Regions from separate parts of the Homo sapiens genome. Here regions 1, 2, 4 and 5 are each reported to be linked to region 3. Evidence: microRNA targets listed by miRTarBase, many of them from high-throughput screens and not tested one by one. Region 3 holds a microRNA gene; each other region holds the end of a gene's coding sequence.

Region 1 (5,103 bases), not on the chromosome of region 3:
AGCCTCCCCGCCTCCCACCGGAGCAGCACCGAGGCCGGAGGCGAGGTGCAGACCTCCAAGAAGTCCTACGTGTGTCCGAACTGTGGGAAAATCTTCCGCTGGAGGGTCAACTTCATCCGGCATCTGCGGAGCCGCAGGGAGCAGGAGAAGCCGCACGAGTGCTCGGTGTGCGGGGAGCTGTTCAGCGACAGCGAGGACCTGGATGGGCACCTAGAGAGCCACGAGGCCCAGAAGCCTTACCGGTGTGGTGCCTGCGGGAAGAGCTTCCGCCTGAACTCCCACCTGCTCTCCCACCGGCGGATACACCTGCAGCCGGACAGACTCCAGCCGGTGGAGAAGAGAGAGCAGGCGGCATCCGAGGACGCGGACAAGGGTCCCAAAGAGCCGCTGGAAAACGGCAAGGCCAAACTGAGCTTCCAGTGCTGTGAGTGTGGGAAGGCCTTCCAGCGGCACGACCACCTGGCTCGGCACCGCAGCCACTTTCACCTGAAGGACAAAGCCCGGCCCTTCCAGTGCCGGTACTGCGTCAAGAGCTTCACGCAGAACTATGACCTCCTCCGCCACGAGCGCCTGCACATGAAGCGCCGTTCCAAGCAGGCTCTGAACTCCTACTGAGCCTCTCCGCCTGGGGCGGCCTCACCCTGGCTGGTGCTGCCCCCTCACCTTGGTACTGATCAGCGCCCCCACCCAGGACATACCTTCCCCAGGATAGAGAGCACACCTCCCTCCTGTCCTTGCTCTCAGGTAGTGAGCGTTCGGGTGGTGCCATGGGAGCACTCTCCCTCCCCCAGGTAATGAAAGAGTGGCCAAGTGAGTGTTCTGTTTCTGCTGTGCCAAAAAACGGGGGGGATGTGCCATCACCAGGTTGGACATGCCAGGTGTTCTGCGTCTTAGAGACCCTTGGCCCATGCTCCCCAAGCTCGGGGAGTAAAACTGGGCTATCCCCCGTCAGGGCGGCACCCTGGTCACCAGCCAAACCTCAGTATACTCCCTCCCCTCCTTCCCTGTCTGAACGCTAGGATCTGCTCCTGAAGCTCCAGGATGCCTGCACTTCCACTGAGAAGCTGCTGGCGGATGTTGGACTAGAGGAAAGAAGAAGGCAGGGTGGGACTGATGGGCTCAGTGGGGAGCAGGGCCAGGCACACTGAGCCAGACATGTCATGTCTGAGCCCCAGATTCGTGGCCATCAGGTAGGCAGGAGCACCCCGCAGATCCAAGATGATCAGGCAGCCCTTTTGGGCTGGCCTCTGTGGCAGGGGTCTGCAGAGCTCCTTCTTGAGGTTTGGAAACAGTCGTCATACCTGTTGATTTTCCTGGGGGCCAATCACTAGGGATCTGGAGCTCACCAAAAACAAAGCTTACATTTTAATTTGTGTTGCACACCTACCCCATAATGTCTTTATACCCCAAAGATCCTTGGTAAATGCTTGTGGGTTGGAAGCGGAGTTGTCATCGTTTAAAAGGCACTTAAGTCCCTTCTTCCAATCTGTCCTGTCTAGGAATGTGGAGCTCTGCCCCCAGTGAGGGGTTCTCCTGTCTGGGTGAGCCAAGCTCCAGAACAGAACCTTGCCTGACAACACACTTGATAGATACATTAGCTTGGAGTGCTGGTGTGTCCAAACACTGGCTGGCTTAGAACAACAGGAGTGTATTCCCTGACAGTTCTGGGAGGTGCACGTCCAAGATCAGGGTGTCCTCAGAGTTGGTGCCTTCCGAGAGCTGTGAGGGAGAAGCGGCTTCATGCCTTTGCTGGCAGTTGCCATTCCTTGGTGTGTGGAAGCGTCACCCAGTCTCTGCCTTCATCTCCACATGGCACTCTTGCTGTGTGCGTGTCTGTCTCCAAACCTCCCTTTGTTTAAGGACACCAGTCATATCGGATTAGAGCCCATCCCACCGACTCCAGTATAACCTCATCTGTATCCGCAGCAACCGTTTACCAATAAGGTCACATTCTGAGGTACTAGAGGTTGGGACTTCAACATCGGAATTTGAAAGGGACAGCATTCAGCCCATGACTCCAGATAAACGTGAGGTATGCTATATCATTCCTAATTTACAGATGAGTCAATACAAACTTGAGTGAGCTTGCTCACAATTCCATCAAAGGCAGGGTTCAGACCCAAGTTTCAGCATTTAGGGCAGGTGTCCTCTGCATGGAAGAATCATACTCAATAGCCGTAAACGCTGACAAATTCCCCTTCCTCCCTGCCTTCTGATGGGGGCTGGGCAGGCCAGCTGGAGCTGTGTCTCCTGCTGGGATTCCGGACTGAGAGTGACAGCAGGTAGTGAAACCTCAAGCAATTTAAAACATGGTATTGTTCCTGGAAGACTGGTTATGTTGGCTAGGGTCAGCAAGAGAGGGCATCAAGGCTGTAGTCTAGCAGTGATTTAATCTGCAAGTCAAACCAGACGGGTATTTTGTATTATTCATATGTCACATCCTACCAACAGACAGTAAGTCAGGCAAGGCTCCTGGTGCTCCTTGTCACTCACGTAATTTTCACATCAGGAAAACTCTGGGCTGGGTGCAGTGGCTCACACCTGTAATCCTAGCACTTTGGGAAACCAAGGTGGGTGGATTGCCTAGCTCAGTGACACCAGCCTGGGCCACATGGCAAAACCCCGTCTGTACCAAAAATGCAAAAAATTAGCTGGGTGTGGTGTTGACGTTTGCGGTCCCAGCTACTCTGGAGGCTGAGGTGGGAGGATTGCTTGAGTCTGGGAGGCAGAAGTTGCAGTAAGCCGAGATCATGCCACTGCACAAGCTAGGTGACAGAATGAGACTCTGTCTCAAAAATAATTAAAAAGCCTCTGCCCCAAACTCGTTAAAAGATTTTATAACCACAACTGCTGTTTCTGTGTAGATGCATCTGCATGCCCAGGAGCAGTAAATGCAATAAAATCATTTGGTTATACTTTGAACACAAAATAAACGGTTGAGGCTTTTACTTTCTAAATAGTTTGTCTCTTGTATCAACATAGCTGGAAAAGGGAGAAATCCGATTTTTAAGGCCAAGGGAGGGGAAAATTCCAAGTAGAAGCCAGGCTCTCTGTACACGTTTACCCCACCTACCTGTGTGCTCCTACCTGTGCTGAGGATTCTCTCTGTAGCTCTAAGGTCTTGGGAAGGTTATTCACCTTCCTGCTTCAGACGTCTGACTCAAGAGAAGAACACTGTTCTACTTACCAGAGTGTTTTTCTGTGTAAAACCACATCATGAAGGAGAAAGCGACAAAGGGAATGTGAGGGGCTGGAAGCCACAGGGAGGCTGTCTCTTGAGTCCCCACCACTGATCCAGAGCCAACCAAGGCACCTCAGGAAATGGAAGGCCACATTGCCTCTGGATTTGGAAATCCTCCTGGGTAATGTAACTGAAACCCAGGTTGATGCCATGCAGCAGGAGCAGCAGGGGGAACGTGCTCTCAGGAGAGGTCGGCCAACCCTCCAGCCCAACACCCTTCACCACAGTGGTGGAGGAGGCTGCACCCAGGAGATCTTTGTCTCCCTTTTGGCCACTGATACCTTTGGCCTTATCTGACAACAGCTACCCCTCGATCCTTCCCTCCCACCCCAGGGGCTGGGCAGCTGGCTGGAGCTTTGTGTCCACCTTGCTCTGGAGGTTGAGACCCCCATCTGAGCAACATCCTCTCTCTTTGTTCCTCTGATCCCTTGGCATCGTCACAAACCCACAGGTGCATAATAAAAACTTGCTGAGTCAATATTCCTGTTAGGCTTTTCATTTTCATTTAAAAAGTAAAATGTGGCTGGGCGTGGCAGCTCATTCCTGTAATCCCAGCACTTTGGGAGGCCGAGGCAGAAGGATTGCTTGAGGTCAGGAGTTTGAGACCAGCCTGAGCAATATAGTGAGACCCCATCTCTAAGAAAAAAATAGAACAATTAGCCTGCCATGGTGGCACATGCCTGTAGCTATTTTGGGGGCTGAGGTGGGGGAAGATCCCTTGAACCCAGGAGACAGAGGTTGCTGTGAACGGTGGAGGTTGCTATGAACGGTGGAGCGCCACTGCACTCCAGCCTGGGTGACAGAGCAAGACTTCATCTCAAAAAACAAAAAGTAAAATGTGAAGCACAGCCAAAACATGTTTTCTAAGACCTGCAGGCTTTAGATAGTTCTGGTCACCTGATCTGGCCCCTCCCCAAAAGAAAGAAGAAGAAATAACTGTTTCATACGCTGGGAGTAGATTGTACTCCTGGTCACACCACAGCTTTAAGCCAACCTTAGTCGTTTTTCTCTTTTCTCTATCTCCCCAACTCTTGCCTCAGCTAGAAGAAGAAACAAATAAAAAAAGATGAGGCCATTGGTGGGAGGGTCCCTATCAGTCCTAAATCATACTGTGGCACAAAGGAAAGAGAAGGCCAGCTTTGAAGCCTGTGGAGATCTTGTCCAAGTCACTCTTCTCCTGTGAGATGGTTTCCCTTCCTCTGCCAAAAGCAGAGTTTGGATCAGATAGAAGTAATTCTGCTTGCAGAGTTACGTAGACGATTCAGCGATGATTATAGCACTTCAGCAATTCCATCAAATAAGCCCACTTTTTTTTCACCCCCCTAAAGACGGGCTCTCACTATTTTGCCCATGCTGGTCTCAGACTCCTGAGCTTCTCCCACCATGGCCTCCCAAAGTGCTGGGATTATAAGTCTGAGCCACCACACCCAGCCTCCAGACACACTTAGTATTAGCAACAAACACTGATACTGTTTGGTCTTGAAAGTGACGGTCAGTGCCCACTACTAGTCCATGCAACAAGGCTAGAGGTTAGAAAACTTGCTTAGGGCAGACTGGCCACAGGAAAGGGACTGTTGAAGGGACCACTGGAAGACCAGGTACCTCTAGCAGCCCAGACCCATGTATAGGGCAGCTGATAGAGTGCCAGTGGCCCAGCATCTGGGGGGTGGTTAGTAGTGATCATGAGCTCAACAGGGGCAAAGCCCAGGGGGTCCATCTGTACCTGTTTTGCCCATCAGATACCAATTGGGAACTTTATCTTCTCTTGAAACCATAGCCTGTAACCAGGTCACCATGATTAATGTGCATATAATTAGCAAAGTACAGAGAAGCCATAGAAATTCCCTGTGAGAAGATGCAAA
Region 2 (5,103 bases), not on the chromosome of region 3:
AAAAATCACCCTAGTTGCCACTCTGGCCTGGTTGCCCATCATGGTAATTGTGTCCACTTTGCCTGTGATAGCTCAGTGCTGCCGCCTGGCCTCTGTTGACCAGTCATCCCATTAATAACAGGGAACTCTGTTCTGTGGCAGAATCTCCTACTATTAACCCTGCTGAGGCAGCTGTCACTGAACAATCCCGGTGCTCCCCTCACTTCATCCTTTATTGTCTGAGTGAACGGGAAGCTATTTGGGCCTTCCGAGATAACATAGGTGTTTGGTTCTCAGATCTCGTGTAAGAAATTCATTTTAACACACGCTGAGTCTGCTGACACCCTTTCTCTGCTCATCATTTTAGCAGCTCTACCTCATTTACTGTAGGCCATCATTCCTCGCCAAGTATTGGATTTTTTTCTTTTCAGAGAGACAGGGGTCTCATTATATTGCCTAGGCTAGTTTCCAACTCCTGGGCTCAAGCAGTCCTCCCATCTCAGCTTCCTGAGTAGCTGGGACTACAGATGTGTGCCACCACGCCCAGCTAATTTTTATTTTTGTAGAGACTGGGTCTCACTATGTTGCCCAGGCTGGGCTTGAACTCCTGAGTTCAAGCGATTCTCCTGCCTTACCCTCCCAGAGTGCTGAGATTACAGGCGTGAGCCACTGCACCCAGCTGATTAATACATGAAAACCACTCGGAAAAGAGCCAGGCAACGCTGACACAGAGTATATGCCATGTATCAGCTACTGCTACCATCACTTGCAAATCCCATCTCCTCTACAATCTCAACTCTGAAAACAGTATCATTCCACTCCATCTTTACTGAACCTGCCCAGGCTTGATGCTGGTTAGATGGAGGAGGATGAGGAGTATAATCAAAGAAAACTTACAAAATTTTGATCCTGACAGGTTTACAGAAATTTTAAGAGGGGGCAATAAATGGGAAAGTGGGATCTGGTTTGAAACATACTATGAAACTGTAGAAAGTCCAGGTGTAACTGCTCTGCAGTCCACTGGAGACCCACGACTGAGGCTTGGGAGAGCCATCAGGACATGGGCAGGTTTTTTTCTTCTTCTTCGAGACAGTCTCGCTCTGTCACCCAGGCTGGAGTGCAGCAGCATTATCTCAGCTCACTGCAACCTCTGCCTCCTGGGTTCAAGTGATTCTCCTGCCTCAGCCTCCCGAGTAGCTGGGATTACAGGCATGTGCCACCAAGCCTAATTTTTCTATTTTTAGTAGAGACAGAGTTTTACCGTGTTGGCCAGGCTAGTCTCAAACTCTCACCTCGTGATCCGCCCGCCTTGGCCTCCCAAAGTGCTGGGATTACAGCCATGAGAACACAGATTTAAAATTTATTTGCATAGGCTGGGCGTAGTGGCACATGCTTGTAATCCCAGCACTTTCGGAGGCCGAGGCAGGCAGATCATGAGGTCAGGAGTTCAAGACCAGCCTGGCCAACATGGTGAAATCCCGTTGTCTATTAAAAATACAAAAGTTAGCTGGGCGTGGTGGTGGGCGCCTGTAATCTCAGATACTAGTGAGGCTGAGGTTGCAGTGAGCCGAGATTGGTCCACTGCACTCCAGCCTGGGCAAGAGCAAGACTCCATCTCAAAAAAAAAAAATGGCAATCTATAAAGTAATTTCATTTCATTTTTGAGACTGTCTTGCTCTGTTATCGTGTGGTGGTGCAATCACAGGGGCTCACTGCAGGCTCAACTTCCTAGGCTCAAGCAGTCCTCTCACCTCAGCCTCCCGAGTAGCTGGGACCACAAGTGTGCACCACCACACCCAGCTAATTTTTTTTTTGAGATGGAGTCTCACTCTGTTGCCCAGGCTGGAGTACAATGGAGCAATCTTGGTTCACCGCAACCACTGCCACCTGCATTTAAGCGATTCTCCTCCCTCAGTCTCCTGAGTAGCTGGGATTACAGGCACGTGCCACCACACCTGGCTGATATATATATATAATTTTTTTTTTTTTAGGAGAGAGAGCATTTCACCATGTTGGTCAGGCTGGTCTCGAACTCCTGACCTTGTGATCCGCCCACCTCGGCCTCCCAAAGTGCTAGGATTACAACTGTGAGCCACTGCGCTCAGCCCTAATTTTTTTTTTTTAATTTTGTTGTAGAGATAGGGTCTTGCCACGTTGCCTAGGCTGGTCTGAAGAGATTCTACTGCCTTGGCCTCCCTAAGTGTTGGGATTATAAGCATGAGCCACTGTACCTAGCCTATAAAGAAATTTTAGGGCCAGGCATGGTGGCTCACGCCTATAATCCCAGCACTTTGAGGCTGAGGCCGGCAGATTGCTAGAGCTCAGTTTAAGACCAGCCTGGGCAACATGGTGAAACCCCATCTCTACTAAAAATACAAAAATTAGCTGGGGCGTGGTGGTGCACACCTGTAGTCCCAGCTACTCTAGAGACTGAGGCACGGGAAGTGCTTGAACCCGGGAGGCAGAGGCAGCAGTGAGCCAAGATGGTGCCACTGCATTCCTGCCTGAGCAACAGTGCTAGACTCTGTCTCAAAAAAAAAAAAAAAAAAAAAATTAAGTCAACTTTCAAATTCCATTTATAGTTACCAACATGTCTTGTCTTTTTTTTTTGAGATGGAGTTTCGCTTTTCTTGCCCAGGCTGGAGTTCAATGGCGCGATCTCAGCTCACCACAACCTGCGCCTCCCGGGTTCAAGTAGTTCTCCTGGCTCAGCCTCCTGAGTAGCTAGGATTATAGGCATGTGCCACCATGCCCGGCTAATTTTGTGTTTTTAGTAGAGACGGGGTTTCTCCATGTTGGTCAGGCTGGTCTAGAACTCCAGACCTCAGGTGATCTGCCTGCCTTGGCCTCCCAGAGTGCTGGGATTACAGGCATGAGCCACTGCACCCAGCCAACATGTCTTGTTTTAACTGAAATATATGGTCCAAACATTGCACAAAACCACACTCAATCTCTTCTGAAAAACTATTCTGTTTAATAGTGCACTTCATTTATGCTACAGGATGAGCAGGGTTGGGAAAACACAATGGAAGGTCATCCCGTCGGTTGGGAAAACTCGGGGAGTGCCATCCTCACCCAGCAACGAGCTCTGCTACCAGGCTCAGGCACAGCCTGCCTTCTCTGGGCTTCGTTTTTTTGTTTTTTTGTTTTTTTTTTCTCCCTTTTGGGCTTTGCTCTTTCTCTGCATTAATCTTCAGCTGCTGAAGAGTCAGAGGTGGAGGCAGGAGTGGTCTGGCTCCTGGGGCTGGGTGTCAGAGGTGAGAGGGCAGGGCAAGCAGGCCAAGTGAGCTCCTTGAAAGCATCCTTACCCAGGCATTTAGAGAAAATCATTTTCATCATTGGAGTGGGAAGAGGACAAGAGAGGACAGCAATCAGAGGCCAACGCTAAGTGCTTCTGACCCTCTCCCTCACAGCCGGTTACTAGCTGTTTGGACAGATTTGCCCATTCAGCCCCAGGACAACTGGGGGGGATGGCAGGGGGTCTGCTGGCAATATCACCAGGTTTCTCTTGGAAACATGGTCTGGCTGCTCCAAGAGCCCTAAAGGACACCATCATCACAGATGATGATTCTGGAATCTCTTCTACCCTCAATAAAATAATCCCTCAATGCCAAATTTCCATAATTAACGAAATCATGAAACAAAACAGCATGTTTCTTACCGAAACTTAAAGCTGGACTAGGAACAGTAGCTTTGAAATAGTCTCCCTTTACCCTCCCTAGCAAATAACAGGACCCAGAGCGTCCTTTCCACTGCTGTCTGTGCTGACTACGCGGACTCCAACTAAAGGAATCCATCGAATTCTGTCCCGACTGTGCTTCCATCCCCACCTTGGAAAGGTTCCTCTGCTGTGAGAAAAACAGTTTAGTGCAAACTCCTTTCCTAAATGGGGTAACTGGTCCCAGAGCTGCTTTCTATTCCCAGCACGCCATCCACTTGCCTTGACGCTTTCTAAGGCTGGTGTGATTTCTGGGAAAATTCAACGATTTGCCCCATCTGCCCCATTCTCTAAAATGAAAAGTCTGAGTTGAAAGGGACACATCCTAAGCTGTTGAGATTTATAGGGTAAGGCAAGAGCTCTTGAGACTCAGGGAAAGTGAGGAAAATGGGTGTGTGGCTCTTTCACGTGGACTCTCTGATATTTAACTCGGTCGTAACTCTGAGGGAGCTTTTGCTCATGCCGATCCCATTCAAAGGCTTCTCTCCAGTGTGAATTCTCTGATGGCGAACAAGAGCCGAGCTGTACCTGAAGGCTTTCCCACACTCACTACATTCATAGGGGTTCTCCCCGGTGTGGATTCTTTGATGCTGAATAAGGCCTGAACTGTAGGTAAACTTTCCTCCACATTCCATACATTCGTAGGGCTTCTCTCCAGTGTGGATTCTCTGGTGCTGATAGAGGTGTGAGCTCTGGCTGAAGGCTTTCCCACATTCATTACATTCATAGGGTTTTTCTCCAGTGTGGATTCTCTGATGGTGAATAAGGGTTGAGCTCCTGCTGAAGGCCTTCCCACATTCATTGCAGGCGTAGGGTTTCTCACCAGTGTGGATTCTCTGATGGTGGGTGAGGGTGGAGCTCCAGCTGAAGGTCTTCCCACACTCATTACATTCATAGGGTTTCTCCCCCGTGTGGATCCTCCGATGCAGAATGAGGGCAGAGCTACAGCTGAAGGTTTTCCCACAATCACTACATTCATAAGGTTTTTCCCCAGTGTGGATTCTCTGATGCTGAATAAGGTGTGAGCTCTGGCTGAAGGCCTTCCCACACTCATTACATTCATAGGGCTTTTCCCCAGTGTGGATTCTCTGATGTTGAATAAGGTCTGAAGTTCGATTAAAGCTCTTGCTACATTCATCACACTTATGGGGTCTGTCTCCCACGGGGAGTCTCTGATGTGAGATAAGGTTGGAATTCACAGTGAAGCTGTTCCCAAAATCATTATATTTCTCGCTTCTCTCTCCCCTGGGGGTTAGCTTCTCCTCAACTGTCACTTGACCAAAATCTGGCATTTTCCTGTTCAGTCTTTCTCCAGGGGAGTTCCCCAGCGGCCTTTTCAGACTGACTTCTCGTTCATAGGCTTCTTTAAACTTGAGACCCTGAGAAATATCCTTTTGAAATCTTCC
Region 3 (5,103 bases):
CATTTTTAGACACGCCAGGACCCCATTCGCCAGGGTCGGCTGACGGAAGCTGTACAATGACTTGTAGCAGGTTTGGGGCTTTACTTCTCCGCATCTTTGAGACCGTTTCCAGAAACCTAAGCTTCCCACATCCAAGAGCCCAGCTCCTCTGTCCACACGCTGCTGTCCGCTCGGGGACGGCAAAGGAGCAACCTGAGCTGCGCTGGCCAAGGCGGCTCTGCTTACCCAGTCCACGATGAGGATCTTGCTCACGCTCAACCTCTGCTGCAGAAGCTTGGCTGCCACGGCCACGGAGTTGAAGTAGCAAAAGCCCCTGCGGGAGAGAACTGACGCTGGAGACGAAGCGCAGGTGGGCGGTGGCCAGTTTCTCCACGGCCCGCCAGAGAGCCACTCGGGGTCCACGCAGACCTAAGAGGTCTCTGTGAGTGCAGAGCTCCTGAATACGTCGCAGGGAACCCTCAGTGATGCCGGAGAATCGGTTAACAGACAGACACGTACACACCCCACATGCAGACACACTCACACGCGTGCGCGCGCACACACACACACACACACACACAGCTCCCAAACAAGCCACTGGGGAATCTTAGCCAATGCCATAGGGTCGGCTAACCGACACGGACATGCACACACCCCACACAGACACACACACCACAGACAGAGACACACACACACCCCCCACAGACACACACACCACAGACAGAGACACACGTACACCCCACACAGACACACACACCACAGAGACACACCCTCCCACACAGACACACACACCATGCAACACGCCCTACACACATACATGCCCCACAGATACGCCCATACACCACAGACACACACCCCACACACACTCCACACAGACACACACCCCACACACACCCCACACCCCACAGATAGAGACACACACACCATGCAAACGCCCTACACACATATATGCCCCACAGATACGCCCATACCCACCCCCCCCACGTAGACACACATGCACAGATACACATGAACACCCCATACAGAAACACTCACACACACACAAACCACAGACACATACAAGCACACACACACATATACACATAAGCATATACCTATCACACACATCCACAGTTCCATACTGAGACAGACAGACACACACACACACACACACACACACACACACTCTCCTGCTTGGAGGTCCCCCACGCTCCTCTGGTAGGGAACCCTATTTCACATGTTACCAACATTTCCCTCATCTTCACCTGGAACCCTTCCTCTCAGGAGCTGCCGCCACGCCCCAGGAGACATGGCAGCCGTTCATCTCAGTTGCTTCCTGCTGACCTTCCTATATTCCAATACATAAATTACCTTTAATTTTAGAGAGTCTTACTCAAGAGACCAAGAAAACAAGCTATGAAAGTGATTCAAATAACAACGAAAACCTTCTTGATCTCAAATTCCCTTTGTCCGAATGACCACAGAAACGGAGAAACACTAGTTGTTTTGTTTTCAGAATCCGGGCTGGCATGGGGAAGCCCACACGCCCCAGGACATCCTAGACGCTGAGCTCCTGCAGCGGCTCACGGGGAGCACAGCGAAGAGCTGCAACAAAACACAATTCGTTTGTCTCCTCTGAGGTTTATTATTTGGAATATCCAACAACTCAGGTTCAAATTAGAAAAGAAACTTCAGAGAAATGAAACAAACAGGAAGCCTGGTGCCCAAGTGACTGTTCTGGGATGTGGAGCAAACACGTGGTTTTCAGGTAAAGCTACAAAGATTCCAACAAGCATCCCTCCCTGGCGGTTACAATCTCCTCCCTGTACACGAAGGACACTCTGCTCTAACACGCGGATCTGACTATCTCTCACGTACAATCTCCTCCCTGTACATGAAGGAGACTCTGCTCTAACACGCGGATCTGACTATCTCTCACGTACAATCTCCTCCCTGTACACGAAGGAGACTCTGCTCTAACATGCGGATCTGACTATCTCTCACGTACAGTCTCCTCCCTGTACACGAAGGAGACTCTGCTCTAACACGCGGATCTGACTATCTCGCACGTACAGTCTCTTCCCTGTACACGAAGGAGACTCTGCTCTAACACGCGGATCTGACTATCTCTCACGTACAGTCTCCTCCCTGCACATGAAGGAGACTCTGCTCTAACACGCGGATCTGACTATCTCGCACGTAGTCTCTTCCCTGTACACGAAGGAGACTCTGCTCTAACACGCGGATCTGACTATCTCGCACGTACAGTCTCTTCCCTGTACACGAAGGAGACTCTGCTCTAACACGCGGATCTGACTATCTCTCACGTACAGTCTCCTCCCTGCACATGAAGGAGACTCTGCTCTAACACGCGGATCTGACTATCTCGCACGTAGTCTCTTCCCTGTACACGAAGGAGACTCTGCTCTAACACGCGGATCTGACTATCTCGCACGTACAGTCTCCTCCCTGTACATGAAGGAGAATCTGCTCTAACACGCGGATCTGACTATCTCTCACGTACAGTCTCCTCCCCGTACATGAAGGAGAATCTGCTCTAACACGCGGATCTGACTGTCTCTCACGTACAATCTCTTCCCTGCACACGAAGGAGACTCTGCTCTAACATGTGGATCTGACTATCTCTCACGTACAGTCTCCTCCCTGTACGTGAAGGAGATTCTGCTCTAACACGCGGATCTGACTATCTCTCACGTCCTGCCGGCCCCTCCGTGGACGCCTGACTTCCCAGGGGTGACAGGGAGGCCCTTTCCCGGGCCCCTGCGGTTCTGTCTTGTTCTGACTGCTTCCTGGCCACAGCCTGATAGTGAACTTGTATCTGCACTTGTTCTTGCGTTGCCATCTGACAAACTGCTGCTCCAACTCTCCAAGGCAGAGCCCTATGCCACCTCCTCCTCACCGAAGCTGGCAAGATCAGGCACGCCTTCTCCATCTCCAGAGCATGGGGAGACGCTCTTTCTAGCACCACCCCTCCTCACTAGAGCGGCTACCGTCCCAGGAGACAGCATGCTCTTTGACGGGATAGATCATTCATTCACCACCCAGGCTGCAAGGCACTCCACAGACAGCTGCGGGTCTGTCCTGCCACTGGCTCTGGACACACAGGGATGGATCCGGGAGGACCCACACCCCACACTCGCCACCCTGCCCAGATCCTCAGCTGTATGGACCGTCGGCAGTCTCTGAAAGACCCGAAACAGCATCAGGATAGCTGCCTGCATGGACGTGGCTCTGTGGCTTGCTGCGTCAGTACCAGGCATTCGGCAGGCAGCTAAAAGGCCATGCGCAAAATGACCTGAGTCCTCTAGACAAGCAAGTGCTGCAGTGACTCACTTGAGGGTGAGTGGTGTTTCCTCTCCCAAGTGTTGACAACTACTCAACAACCAGAGGCTTCTCTGGACTAACCTCCACAGACCCTTTCCCATCCTTTCCTCTGATCTGTCTCCGTCATAACCGAGCAGTGATGCTCGCAGACTTTGGCATCTGCACTCCACACCCAGGAGCTGGAGCCAAGCCGGCATGCGGCACATCCTGGGTGGCCAGCAAACAGCAGCCCAGCTCCCCGCAGTCACTCACACACCCACCCAGCCCTAAGGGAGGGAAGGAAGACCTGGGTTCCCCTGCTGTGCGGGGCTGCGGCGTGTACTCACATGGGCGTGCTCTCCTCCGCATGGTGTCCAGGGGGGCGGACCACAGCAAAGCCATTCTGCAGGTGACACCAGACAGCCAGGAGAGAGCAACAAAAGACACACTTTGTAGCCACGGGAAAATGGTTGCACACTCAACTTTTAGCAGAGTTGGGCTACACAGGAGGACAGTTTCTTGCTGCACCCTGGCCACAGTGATGGGGACAGGATGCAGGGCCAGCTGGGAGCCTTTCCGGGAAGCCTGGGCCCTTCTCCTAAAGAGGTCTGGGGGCTACTAATGGTTCCCCCGAAACGCAGTCACTAGGATAACAGGTGGGTGCCTGCCCACTCTCAGAACTGTCGGTGAGGCGTGGTGCCCTTGGCTCAGGGGTCGGGGTGATGTGGAAAGGATGTGCTCACTCCCCGTCGGCTCGGGACCAGGACCCGCTAGGTGGCCACTGGAGGAAGATGAAGCAGAAGGGGCCCCACTCAAGGACTTGGCCGCGGGGCAGAGACGTTGTGTCCCAGCTTGGCCTTCACGTGACTGCCTCTGTCCTTACTGCAGTTCAGCTCTCAGGATGGCGGGCAAGTGGGCAGCCCACGAAACAGCTCCTCTCACACTGGGCAGAAACGCTGTCCTCTGCCCCATCACTTCTGCGTCAAAAATCCATCTGCAAACCACTCTGTAGTTGCTGCCATAAAAATGGATTCCAGTCCTCTCCTGGTCTCACCAGCAACAGGACACTGTGTGGTCAAGGTCTGTAATGAAGCCTCAAAAAAAGTGCCGGCCAACCATGAGTGACAATGCCATGGACGGGGTGAGCCGGACGCCGCAGGGACCAGGCTCAGGAAGGGGCGAGGGCAGCCCATGAGGTGGCGGCAAACGCTCTCAAGAGGCCCTGGCCTCCCTGCGTTTCTGCACTCAGTGCTTCCGAGTGTAGGCTGCAGACCCCTCGGTCCCGACCCCTGCTGAGGGTCTGTAGTCCACGTAGTCCTGAGGCTCTATGTACTCTTTTCACTGCCCTGACACCTGCGCCGATGGTGCTGAAGCACCGGAGGGTAGACGGCGGGCAGGGAACAGCACCAGGGCGTGTGTGTGTGTGTGAGCAGCTTCTCTTAACAATGTGCTCGATGAAGCAGTATTCAGACATTTTAGTAGATCTCCGCCCTCAAACACGTCCTTTTAACATCCCGAGTAAAGAGACGGGAAGGAAGCGTGAGAAACTGTGAGCTTTCCAGTGAAAATTACAAGTTTGGAACACACGGCTCTGCCCCTGTGAGCCTGCTGGCTCTCTCACTACTTATAAGACTTCTGGTGAGATGGGGGTGATATTAATGGTTTCAAAAATTAATGACTTTTTTGATACTGTATGGGTCAGAATATGGAAGATCCATGTAACTCCGTGAAGCTAAGTTTCCAAATGACCAACGCACGGTGCTACCAATCACCCATGAACGAAGGATCGATTTGATCTCCAAGAAGGGCTAATGGTTCAGT
Region 4 (5,103 bases), not on the chromosome of region 3:
AGAAGAAAAAAATACTGGAGGTAAGCATGTTTGCATGAAAATTAAATTTGGCAAACTGTAGAAGTCTTTTATCCATTCAAGAGAATGTACTCTCATGGGCCTAGACTTTCAACAGCATGTAAAAAGATCTGTAGCTAGATGTTTTAATTATCAGATTTAGTTTATTTTCACATTAGGTTCTGGAAGCCTGCAGATTTTATTAAAGACTAGCAATAGGCTTTAAGATTTGTCATTGAAATAATGTTATAAAATGTGACTAAGAAACGTAACATAATTATATAAACTTTATTCAGCAAAATAAAGGGTTTTTATTCGTGTTGTTATGTTGTTTTTGTTTTTTATTTTAAAGGAAATGGAGAAATCAGATGCCAACAACTTCTTAATCTTGTTCCGGGATTCAGGATGCCAGTTCAGATCTTTATACACTTATTGCCCAGAAACTGAAGAAATCAATAAACTGACTGGGATAGGCCCTAAATCTATCACTAAAAAAATGATTGAAGGACTTTACAAATATAATTCTGACAGGAAACAGTTTAGCCACATACCCGCTAAAACTTTATCTGCCAGTGTTGATGCAATTACCATTCATAGCCATTTATGGCAGACCAAAAGACCAGTAACACCCAAAAAACTTTTACCCACTAAGGCATAGAAGTTGGGAAATACTTGCTTCAGAACATTCATGGTAAATTTGCACTTCATCTTTCCTGCCTATAGAAAATCTTTCTAATTGCCAACAAGACTTTTATTAATTAAAACTGGACATTAAGCTCTGTTGTCATGAACAACTGGAATGTAAACCACAGTATTTTGGAGTGCAGAACATTCTCAATTAAGTGATAAGTCCAAATGATGAAGGAAATGTTTTAATTCACAAATGGAGATTTGTATGTGTTATCAGGTTCACCTGCTTGATATTAGATACATTAAAGCACTGAATTTTCATGGATATTAGTTGGATTTATCATTGAAATATGGTTAAGATTACAAATTATGTGTTTTATTTGTTGCTTTTTTTTAACCTTTTAATGTATATTCTTGTCTTCAGATGGTTTGCTATTTTTCTCTCCTGGGGGTTTATTCTAAGATACCTTTGTATTTTATTTCATGTGGAGATCATGAAAGTAGGAAATATACCTTTAGAAGTAACTCGCACCTTTCTTATGATGTTAAGAGAAACACTAGTGTTTAGTTTTACAGTAACCCTCATATTTTAATGGTGTTACAGCATTTGCAAAAATTATTCTGCTAAGTATTTACAACTCTATTTATTATTCACTCAAGTATTAACATTCTCTATTAAATAAGAGGAGGTGTTGTAAAGAGCTGCTAGTAGGTTCGCTTTAAACCACATGAGCTTAACCAAGAATATGTTATGAGAAGTTGCTGATTAAATCAGTGCTGTTTTTACACCACTTCTGGCCAACTCAGAATAATTTAGATTGTTCTTTTAACAAAAAAGGCTTTCTATCTCTTTTAAAGTAAGTCACTTTATAAGTTGGCAGAAGTGAATGACACTTTGAGAGTAGTCTTTCAATCTGAAGATGTAAGACTTCCTGAAACAAGTTCTCAAGAAGTCTTTACATTATATTTATAACTCATATAAAAATTATATTTAGAATTTTTAAACATGTACAAAGGGCTACATTTTAATTTTAAAATAGCTTCACATTATTTTACTTATATTGGGTTTTTCTTCATTTTAATCCTTTTCAAGTGGAATGGCTTAGAATAAGTATACACTTGAAATCTCCTCTACATGATCTTTGTTCTTTAACAGTGTATACCAGAGGGTTAGTTGGGGAAAAACTTCATTCTCAGGAAAAGACTTGAATGATTATGTGACCCTGTTATATTTCAGTGTTGTGACAAATGTGTAAACTAGCGGGGGAAGACAGTATTGTATCATAAATGAGATGCGTAGTTTGTTTTCTTTCATGGGAAGTAGAGATAAAAATATATACATTTCTCTAATTGAGTTGTTTAGAGAAAGAACTAATGTCTCATATGATGTATTTACTTATTTTAAAAAAAAGAATAGGAATGAGATGTCCCTGAGCTGTACTTTTCTATTATTATAAGGCCTTTAGGCATCAGTGCATCTGGGTTATCAACATTTTCTCAAATGCTGTCAATATTTTACTGTAATTTATGTTCTTATATTTATGTATATTTGTTAAAACTGTAAAAAAATTTCACAGATTTTTTTCCAATACCTGTGCAAGATACATGTGTAGCTCAAAACTATTTGTGATCTACTGTTTGCATGTAAGAGACCAGGATATGTAACTCTTATATTTTAAGTGTATACATATTGTGTATATAACATATGGATATTAAAAATGGGGAATTGCACATTTTACCTTTTGGACAGTAATTTCTATCACAGTTAGAAGGAAATGATAGTCAAATACACGTTTAGATTAAAACTAGTTTAAAAAATTATAAATGAATCTAATCAAAATGTGAATAGTAGTCAAAAGGATAATTTAATAAGCATTTTACGTTACTAAATTTGTTCATTTCAATATTAACTAAATTTCCCTCATCAAAGCAATCTTTGTGATATTACTTCGCTATTAAATAAAGAAAATTGGATGCAAGACAATGGAGAAACTTTAAAACTAAACAGGACCACCCTTTATTCTTAAATTTGTGTGTGTCCAACAGTTGAATTGAATGTCTATAAGGTCTAAAGGTAGAATGTGAATATTGCCACAGAGTTCATTGCTCTCAGTATAAGATTTTACTTTATTAATGCAGAAGGAATATGGATATATTTCTTTAAGTCTGCAGATTTTTTTATTATGGTGCAGCTTTTTTTTAATTATGTTTTTAAAATTATACAGTTGAAAAATATGCCATTTCATAAAGTCTGAGGATTTTCGTCAACCTTACTGAAACACACTGGTGCTTTCATCATCAGAGGTCAAATTATTATGATAACTATTCCATTAAGTTTGCCAAACATTTGTCGTGGTTACCAGTGCAGCCTGTCAAATTCTGCTATTTGACACAGCTTTGGAAAGATTTAGTTCTTGGTTTTTCCGTTTTGTATTAGAATGACTGTTACAGTTTTATTTGGCTGTTTAAAGCCAAATTCAGCTATTTAATTATGGTTTCATGGACACTGTTGAGCAATGTACAGTGTATGGTGTGCTTACCTGTCCACTCTAGAGCATTGCTTACAGGTTTTTTGTTTTTTAAGATGCTGTGCTGTAAAATACTGTCATACTTGCTATTTCCTGGTACAGTGTAGTTTTTCCCCTTTCATTTGAATAAAAGCATGGCACCAAATGACTCCTTTTCTGTTTCTTGAATAAAATGTAGTTTTTGGTAAAATTATTTGAACTTGAGATAACTCATACAGTTTTTCTATCCCCTAACCTATGTTTAAATTTAATAACTTGAATATTCATAACAGGCAACTTGAAATAATTAGCCTTTTAAAAATACTAACTTAGGGCAATGTTAAAAAGTCGGTAACTTTCTATGCTTAGCACAGACGGTCTACATAGTATGATTTATAAATGTGCTTATCTTATGTTAATCTTGCTCATACTAATTCACTATCTTTTGGTGAATTGATAGTTATATTGTACCAGAACTAGTGCTCTATGTCTTTGAAACTGAATGGCCAGTGAACTCACTGATCTGGAGTAGCCATGAGAAGCTAGTTCTTGACCATTATTTTGTAAGTTTCACTTTGATTTTGCTGATTCTACTTACTCAGAACAGAGTAAAGAAAAAGGTGTTTTTTAAGAAAAAAGAGATCTGATAACAAAACTATAAAATAATCGTCATGCCTAATTATATACCTGAAGAAATATCTGGTTAGTAGACATAAATGTGGTTTTCTAGCTTGGGACCTTTTTGATAGGTTCTGTAACTTCAGAGCACAGCTATATTTCCACAATATTTCCAGTACTTTAATTTTCAGAAATAAAAATATTTAACCCGGCCGGGCGCGGTGGCTCACGCCTGTAATCCCAGCACTTTGGGAGGCCGAAGTGGGCGGATCACGAGGTCAGGGGATCGAGACCATCCTGGCTAACATGGTGAAACCCCGTCTCTACTAAAAATACAAAAAAAATTAGCCAGGCCTGGTAGCGGGCACCTGTAGTCACAGCTACTTGGGAGGCTGAGACAGGAGAATGGCATGAACCCGGGAGGCAGAGCTTGCAGTGAGCCGAGATTGCACCACTGCACTCCAGCCTGGGCGACAGAGCGAGACTCCGTCTCAAAAAAAAAAAAAAAAAAAACCCTAAGACCCAGGCAACATTAGAAAAATGTACACAATGCCAGGTATGGTGGTGGCTCATGCCTATAATCCCAGCACTTCGGGAGGCCAAGGCAGGCAGATCACTTGAGGTCAGGAGTTTTGAGACCAGCCTGGCCAACACGGCGAAACCCTGTCTCTACTAAAAAATAAAAATTAGCCAGGCATGGTGGCATACGCCTGTAATCCCAGGTACTCAGGAACATGAGGCAGAAAAATTGCTTGAACCCAGGAGGCGGAGGTTGCTGTGAGCCAAGATCGCACCTCTGCAGTCCAGCCTGGGTGACAGAGTGAGGCTGTGTCTCAAAAAAAAAAAAAAAAAAAAAAAAAGTGTACACAAACCCTAGAGCCCCCACACAATAAGAATGTGTTGCCTTATGACTGAAATTGATACTTCTTAACTAGGGCAGAGGAAAATATTCTGTAGTGAATAGGAACAAACACCTTTATTTCATGATCTGTCTACACAGAAAGATGATAATAAAATTCAGCAAAGGAAATGTAGCTGTAATGTTATGACCTAGGAATTGGCTATTGGAGAAACACATCTATAAAATGAGTGTGAAATTCTGTCGTCCCTTAGAAGTATATAGATGCTTAAGAAATAGGTATCTTCTCAAAAGAAACAAATGAGATATTAATGATTTTGCCTAATTTGATGGGGGTGGGGGAAGTACACAGATTGGTATGTCAGAGTTGCTCTTCAAATAAGGAGATCTAGAATCTAGTTTCAGTCACTTCCTTTTTGCCCCTGTGGGCATGTAGGTCTTCTAGCAACTCAAGGCCACATGCTTAGACAACACAGATTAGTTTTGTACATG
Region 5 (5,085 bases), not on the chromosome of region 3:
GCTGCCCCACCCTCCCATGCCCCCTTCTCAGAGCACCTGGGACCACTCAATTTGGGTTTCCTGTAGGCGGGGACACATTCTGTTTTCTCAAAATTTTGTTTTTCTTCTAGACTACTCGAGGGCAGATTTTGCAGGAATATCGAAAAATCAAAAAGGTGAGTGTCTCTTGTGTTGGGGTGGGCTCCAAGTGAGCCATGGGAGCTGGAGGGAGGAGGGTGGGCCCGGGGCAGCCTCCCTGCCCGCTACTTCCAAGGTGTGGGGGAAGAGCCTTTGAGTCTGAGGCCAAAGTTGCCCCACCACCCCCAGCTAAGTCTTCAGCTGTGGCATCCTGGCCCAGCCACACAAGCTGTGGAGGTGCGGGGGACCAACTCCCACTCTGCCCTTGGACCACAACCCTCCTTGCTGGGCACCAAGCCCAGGTTTTTGGTTTGGGGGGGACACTGGCCTGCTTACAGCGGGGAGCAGCACCCAGGGCGGCTCTGTCCTGAGCATGACTGTGCTGTCCCACAGACCAACACCAACTACAGCCAGGAGAAGCACCGCTGCGAGTACCTGCACAGCAAGCTGGCCCACATCAAGAGGCTCATCGCCGAGTACGACCAGCGGCAGCTGCAGGCTTGGCCCTAGCCGCCCTCCCCGATGGCGGGGATCTGGGAGGGTCGGGGGAGCAAAAGGCGGTGAGAGAGGATTTATTTAAAAAAATAAACCCGAGGAAGATGCTCATCTGAGCCAGCACCGCCGGCTTTCAGGGCAGCCCCTGCAGACGTCTGGCCCTGGCGGGTGGCTGCAAGCCCACCTCGGCCCTCCCTGCGCTTCCTGAGCAGTCCCTGCTTATGATGGGCTCCCCAGGAAGCCCACTGCCTCCTCCCTGGCTGCAGCCTCCGGGGTTCAGCCTCCTGTCTCGCCAGAAGACTCCTAGGCCCTTGGGGTGGCGCGCCTGCCTTTTCTAGTTTTATACAAAGACAGCCACTTTTAGCTACTGCTAATGAGACTTGAGTCTATTTTTGTACAAAAGAGAAGCAAAATCTTTTTTCTAAACCTGTGCCTCCCTCTCCTCGGACACCCAGGGTCTAGCCGCTGCCCTGGGTCCTGCCTGCAGTATTACAGAGGTCGTCGAAAGGTGCAGCTGCGTTCTGAGGGCGTGGGGAATGGGCAGGTGGCCTCTGCTGGTCTCTGGCTCTACGTTTAGGCACCCCTTTCCCCAGCCTCTCCTCCTTGGGCAGGGTCTCTGCTCCAGCAAGCAAACAGGGTGGCCCAGGTGGCTATTTTGAGAACTCCAGCTGGTGCCCCCAGACAGCTGCTCAGAGCCAAGGGGGCAGAGGGCTTTCAGCGCCCCCAGGCCTGCCCTGCTATTTCAGGCCCTCAGCTGTCGGGGGCCACTGTGTTTCTGTGCTCCAAGTTGAGACTCGGCCGCAGCGGCGTCAGACTTTTCTTTGCGATGTCCTCGGTTTCCCATTTGTTGCTGCTGCTGCTCATTCCACACTGTTGAGACCTTGTGGTCTCGATGCTGCTGGCCTCCCTCCGTCCCTCTGTCCACTTGTGGGTCCTGGGGTCGTCTTAGCAGAGCCACCGCCAAGGTTTGCACTCAGGGAGGGGCTGATGGAGGGCTGGGCGCCATGGGGTCAGGGAGGCCCCAGGGACCCATGGGCAGAGCTGGGGAGCCAGGAGGATGGGTCTGCCTGCTCTGGGGGTGCAGGCTCTGCAGACACCCCAATTGCTGCTCTGTTGCTGTGCCTAGTCTAGTGTCCCCCAAAGCATCGGGGGGCCACGCAAGTGTGGGTGTGTGAGTGTGCGTATGTGGGGACCCCCCAGGGCATGGTGGGGTCTGAGGCGTGTGTTCCCATTTAGGGCTGAATGAAGCCATGACTTGGAAAGGTGGTGGGGGGTGGATGGCGGCTGTGACTCAGGGCCCAGGGATCACATGGGGGTCACTGCTGCCATCAGCAGTCAGGCAGGGAGAACAGAAATGCAAAAATACAGATGTCTATTTTTCTAAACTGGGGGGTGGAGGGGTGCCTCCTGACAGCTTCCAAAGAGCTGACTGTGGAGGGCCCACAGTGTATCCCACCCCTGCCCGAGAGTCTCTCTCCTTTGGGACCCCCGGGTTCCCAGAGCTCCGAGGAAACTGATCCTTCATGTTTCAATAGCTGTTGTTGTTTTTCTCTTTGGGCCGGGCCGGGCCGGGGAAGGGCCGAGCAGGCTCCAGGAGGCCTCCAGAGTCAGCTGGACCTTGCTGTGTCGCCCGCAGGCAGCCCTGCAGACACCGGTGAGGTGGGATGATTTCAGGAGGTCCCAGCCCGGGACTGCCCGCCCCTCTGCCCTGGGAACCAGTCCAAGGGGCTGTCAGTTGAATTTGCCTTTTTGTTGTTGTTGTTGTTTTTGTTGTTTATTTGTTCTCCTTTTAAGGAATTATGAAGCTAAGAAAAGTTTTGTGTTTTGGGGGTTGGTGGACAAAGTTCTAGCTGATTAAATATGGTCTAACTTATTGATACTATTTTTTTTTCTTTTAATGTTGTACTGTGGAGAAAAACTATTTTGAGCCATGGGGTTGGTGTTTACAAGAACTTTCCACTTTTGCCAAAATGTTACAATTGAAAGGCATCTATCTGCGTCTTCAGTTTCCTGATATTTTCTTAAAAGATCTAGTGTCCTTTTTGTACACTAAACAGGTGAATGCTGACTTTTTTCATTCTCCAATAAATTTCACTGAACTGAACCTGGCAGCCCAGGCTGCCTGGCTGGTGTGTGTGGTGTGTGGGTGTTGGTGTATCTGTGTGTGTGGTGTATGGTGTGTATGTGTGTGTGGTGTGTGTTGGGGTGTGTGGGTGTGTAGTATATCTGTGTCGGTGTGTGTTGGATGTTGTGTGTGGGTGTGTAGTGTGTGTGATGTGTTAGGGTGTGTGTGTTGTATGTGTGGGTGTGTTGTGTGTGGTGTGTGTTGGGGTGTGGGGTGTGTGGTGTGTGTTGGGGATGTGTGTGGTGAGGATGTGGTGTTTGTTGGGATGTGGTATGTGTTGGGATGTGGGTGTGTGTTGGGGTGTGGTGTGTGGATGTGGTGTATCTGGGTGTGTGGTATGAGGGTGTGGTGTGTGTTGGGGTGTGTGGTGTGGGGTGTGTGTGGTGTGTTGGGGATGTGTTGAGGGTGGGTGTGTGTTGGGGTGTGTGGGTGTGGTGTGTGTTGGGGTGTGTTGGTGTGGGTGTGGTGTGTGTTGGTGTGTGTTGACCGGATGTGTGGTGTGTGTTGGGGTGTGAGGGTGTGGTGTGTGTTGGGTGGTGTGTGGTGTGTGTTGGGGTGTGTAGGTGTGTGTGTGGTGTGAGGGTGTGGTGTGTGTTGGGGGTGTGTGTGTTGGGTGTGTGGTGTGTGTTGGGGTGTGGGTGTGTGTGTAGTGTGTGGGTGTGTCACAGCCTGGTTTCTGTGGTGGCTGTCCCTGTCCTGTGGTTGGGGGTGGGCTGGCATCAGGAGGTGATGTGACCTGGGGCCGCCATAATGATGAGAAAGGGTTGTTCAGGGGCTCTGGCTGGGACCAGATAAGAAGGCAGAGTTTGCAGCCTACCTGAGCCGTTGCCTGAGAAAGGACCAAATCAGAGGGCCCTGTAGGTGACGGGGAGCGCGGGGGTGGGGGCAGGCTGGGTCAGGGCGGAGGGATAGGGAGCCATAGCAGGTGTGTGAGCACAGCAGTACCCTCTGGTGTGGATAGGGTGGGCTGAACCCAGCATTGGGATTCCTTGGCCCCCTGTGGCACCAAAGGCTACAGGAGTGGGGCTGGGGGTGGGGGAAACCAGCTGTGACTGTCTCCCTCTGATGAAAGCAGCAGCAGGTAACGGTAATATTACCTGTTCTTCCCACACTGGGGCAGGGGCATCCCCTGTGCCACTAGTGGGGATGGGGAAAAGGCCTGACGGGAGCGGCGGTGGTGCAGGTGGAACGAGCCAGGGGCCATGGAGAACATAACACTCAACCTGCCAGCCAAGGACAAGAAGGGGTGCATTTAGTAAGCGATAACACCGAAGAATAGGACCGTGGGCAAAGGTCCTGGGCCTGCAGCTGTGGGGGGGGCCTGGCCTCCCTGCCCGTCCGTGGCCTTGGCCCAAGTTCTAAGGCCACCCAGGAATCTGAGGGGCGCGGGAGGGGAAGTCATGCAGCCCAGTGGGGCAGCGTGTACCCTGCTCCCAGCATAGCCTGGCCACGCTGTTCTCCCAGGATAACATCTCTGTCCCAACATCCCAGGGCCAACACCAACCTCCTGCAGCTCACGGTCCTGCCTCCCCCGGCCCTCCAACGCCAGCCCTAAGCCAACTGCCCAGCAATACTCTGGCCATCACCCCCGCAGCCTGCAGAGGCCACAGTCAGTCCCCTGACCTTCCTGAGCCATGGATGCCATCAGTCTAGTGCCCCGGATATTCAGGAGAGCCTTCCCACCCTCATGACCTGGGCACCCTGGTAGAGAGGGGCTCAGAGCTGTTAAACCCTCTCCTGCCACCTGCCAGGGGCCCCAATTGTCCTCTTTCAACGGGCACCCCTGTTCCTGCAGCCCCCTCCTGTACCAAGCTCCACCTGGGCTCTGCAACACAGCAGTGACTCAGCCTCATCCCTGCCTTCAGGGAGCCCACACTTTGCTGGGGAATAACAGTGCATCTCACCACCGACTTCAGCACACCCAGGCCTGACTGTAGGGGCCAAACCCCCTCCTTCGGCCTTGTCAACTGCTGGGAGTGGAAGCAGCCCAGCCTCTATGCCGATTCCCTCCAGCTGCCCTGTGCCAGCTCCCATCCTCCGGCACCCTCTACAGGTGGCCCTGTGAACACAGGCTCCCCGGGGCTGGGTCTTGGGACCTTCCTCATGTCTCTCAACTACACAGGTTCCTGAATCACGTGTCGCCTCGAGGCACAAACTCCCCGATTCTCTGATCCTCCAGTACCTACAGGATGTCCAACAGTTCCATTCCCAGAGATGGTATCGGACTCCACAAGTTATGGGGGTCAGTCCCACAGGGCTGCACCTGTGTCAGATGCCACCTATACTTCTGGCAAGCAGGCTAATAAATTGCGAGTTCCCATGACCCCACTTCAGGTTTGATAATTGCT

What was found. The annotated mature microRNA hsa-miR-4441 reads ACAGGGAGGAGAUUGUA and lies in region 3 at 1,899-1,915, opposite strand. An mRNA with a match to its seed (bases 2 to 7 or 8) in the 3' UTR can be bound and repressed. Matches are read on the target gene's strand: a 7mer-m8 pairs with bases 2 to 8, a 7mer-A1 pairs with bases 2 to 7 and ends in A, and an 8mer does both.
Region 1: the mRNA of ZNF496 is a reported target of hsa-miR-4441. Seed matches in the 3' UTR shown: 7mer-A1 at 1,653-1,659 and 7mer-m8 at 2,202-2,208.
Region 2: miRTarBase lists ZNF3 as a target of hsa-miR-4441. Seed matches in the 3' UTR shown: 7mer-A1 at 4,067-4,073.
Region 4: miRTarBase lists CAMSAP2 as a target of hsa-miR-4441. Seed matches in the 3' UTR shown: 7mer-A1 at 2,055-2,061.
Region 5: miRTarBase lists ELL as a target of hsa-miR-4441. Seed matches in the 3' UTR shown: 7mer-m8 at 804-810 and 7mer-m8 at 865-871.

What each region holds. Positions count from the first base shown.
Region 1 is chr1:247,296,031-247,301,133 of GRCh38, reverse strand. It overlaps ZNF496 (zinc finger protein 496), which reads left to right. Exons shown (of 10, transcript NM_032752.3): 10 at 1-3,719. The coding sequence ends at 615. Among named protein-coding and RNA genes, the nearest start is that of ZNF496, 33 kb to the left of the region's middle. RefSeq lists enhancers at 413-1,311, 1,312-2,211.
Region 2 is chr7:100,067,042-100,072,144 of GRCh38, forward strand. It overlaps ZNF3 (zinc finger protein 3), which reads right to left. Exons shown (of 6, transcript NM_032924.5): 6 at 2,932-5,103. The coding sequence ends at 4,102. Among named protein-coding and RNA genes, the nearest start is that of ZNF3, 12 kb to the right of the region's middle.
Region 3 is chr2:239,083,930-239,089,032 of GRCh38, forward strand. MIR4441 (microRNA 4441) reads right to left here and starts at 1,997; the gene lies at 1,898-1,997. HDAC4 (histone deacetylase 4) reads right to left here. Exons shown (of 27, transcript NM_001378414.1): 19 at 3,630-3,685; 20 at 226-313.
Region 4 is chr1:200,857,405-200,862,507 of GRCh38, forward strand. It overlaps CAMSAP2 (calmodulin regulated spectrin associated protein family member 2), which reads left to right. Exons shown (of 17, transcript NM_203459.4): 16 at 1-20; 17 at 350-3,300. The coding sequence ends at 655. Among named protein-coding and RNA genes, the nearest start is that of GPR25, 13 kb to the right of the region's middle.
Region 5 is chr19:18,440,294-18,445,378 of GRCh38, reverse strand. It overlaps ELL (elongation factor for RNA polymerase II), which reads left to right. Exons shown (of 12, transcript NM_006532.4): 11 at 111-155; 12 at 511-2,716. The coding sequence ends at 627. Among named protein-coding and RNA genes, the nearest start is that of ISYNA1, 4.7 kb to the right of the region's middle. RefSeq lists a silencer at 3,519-3,568 and enhancers at 4,362-4,421, 4,582-4,701.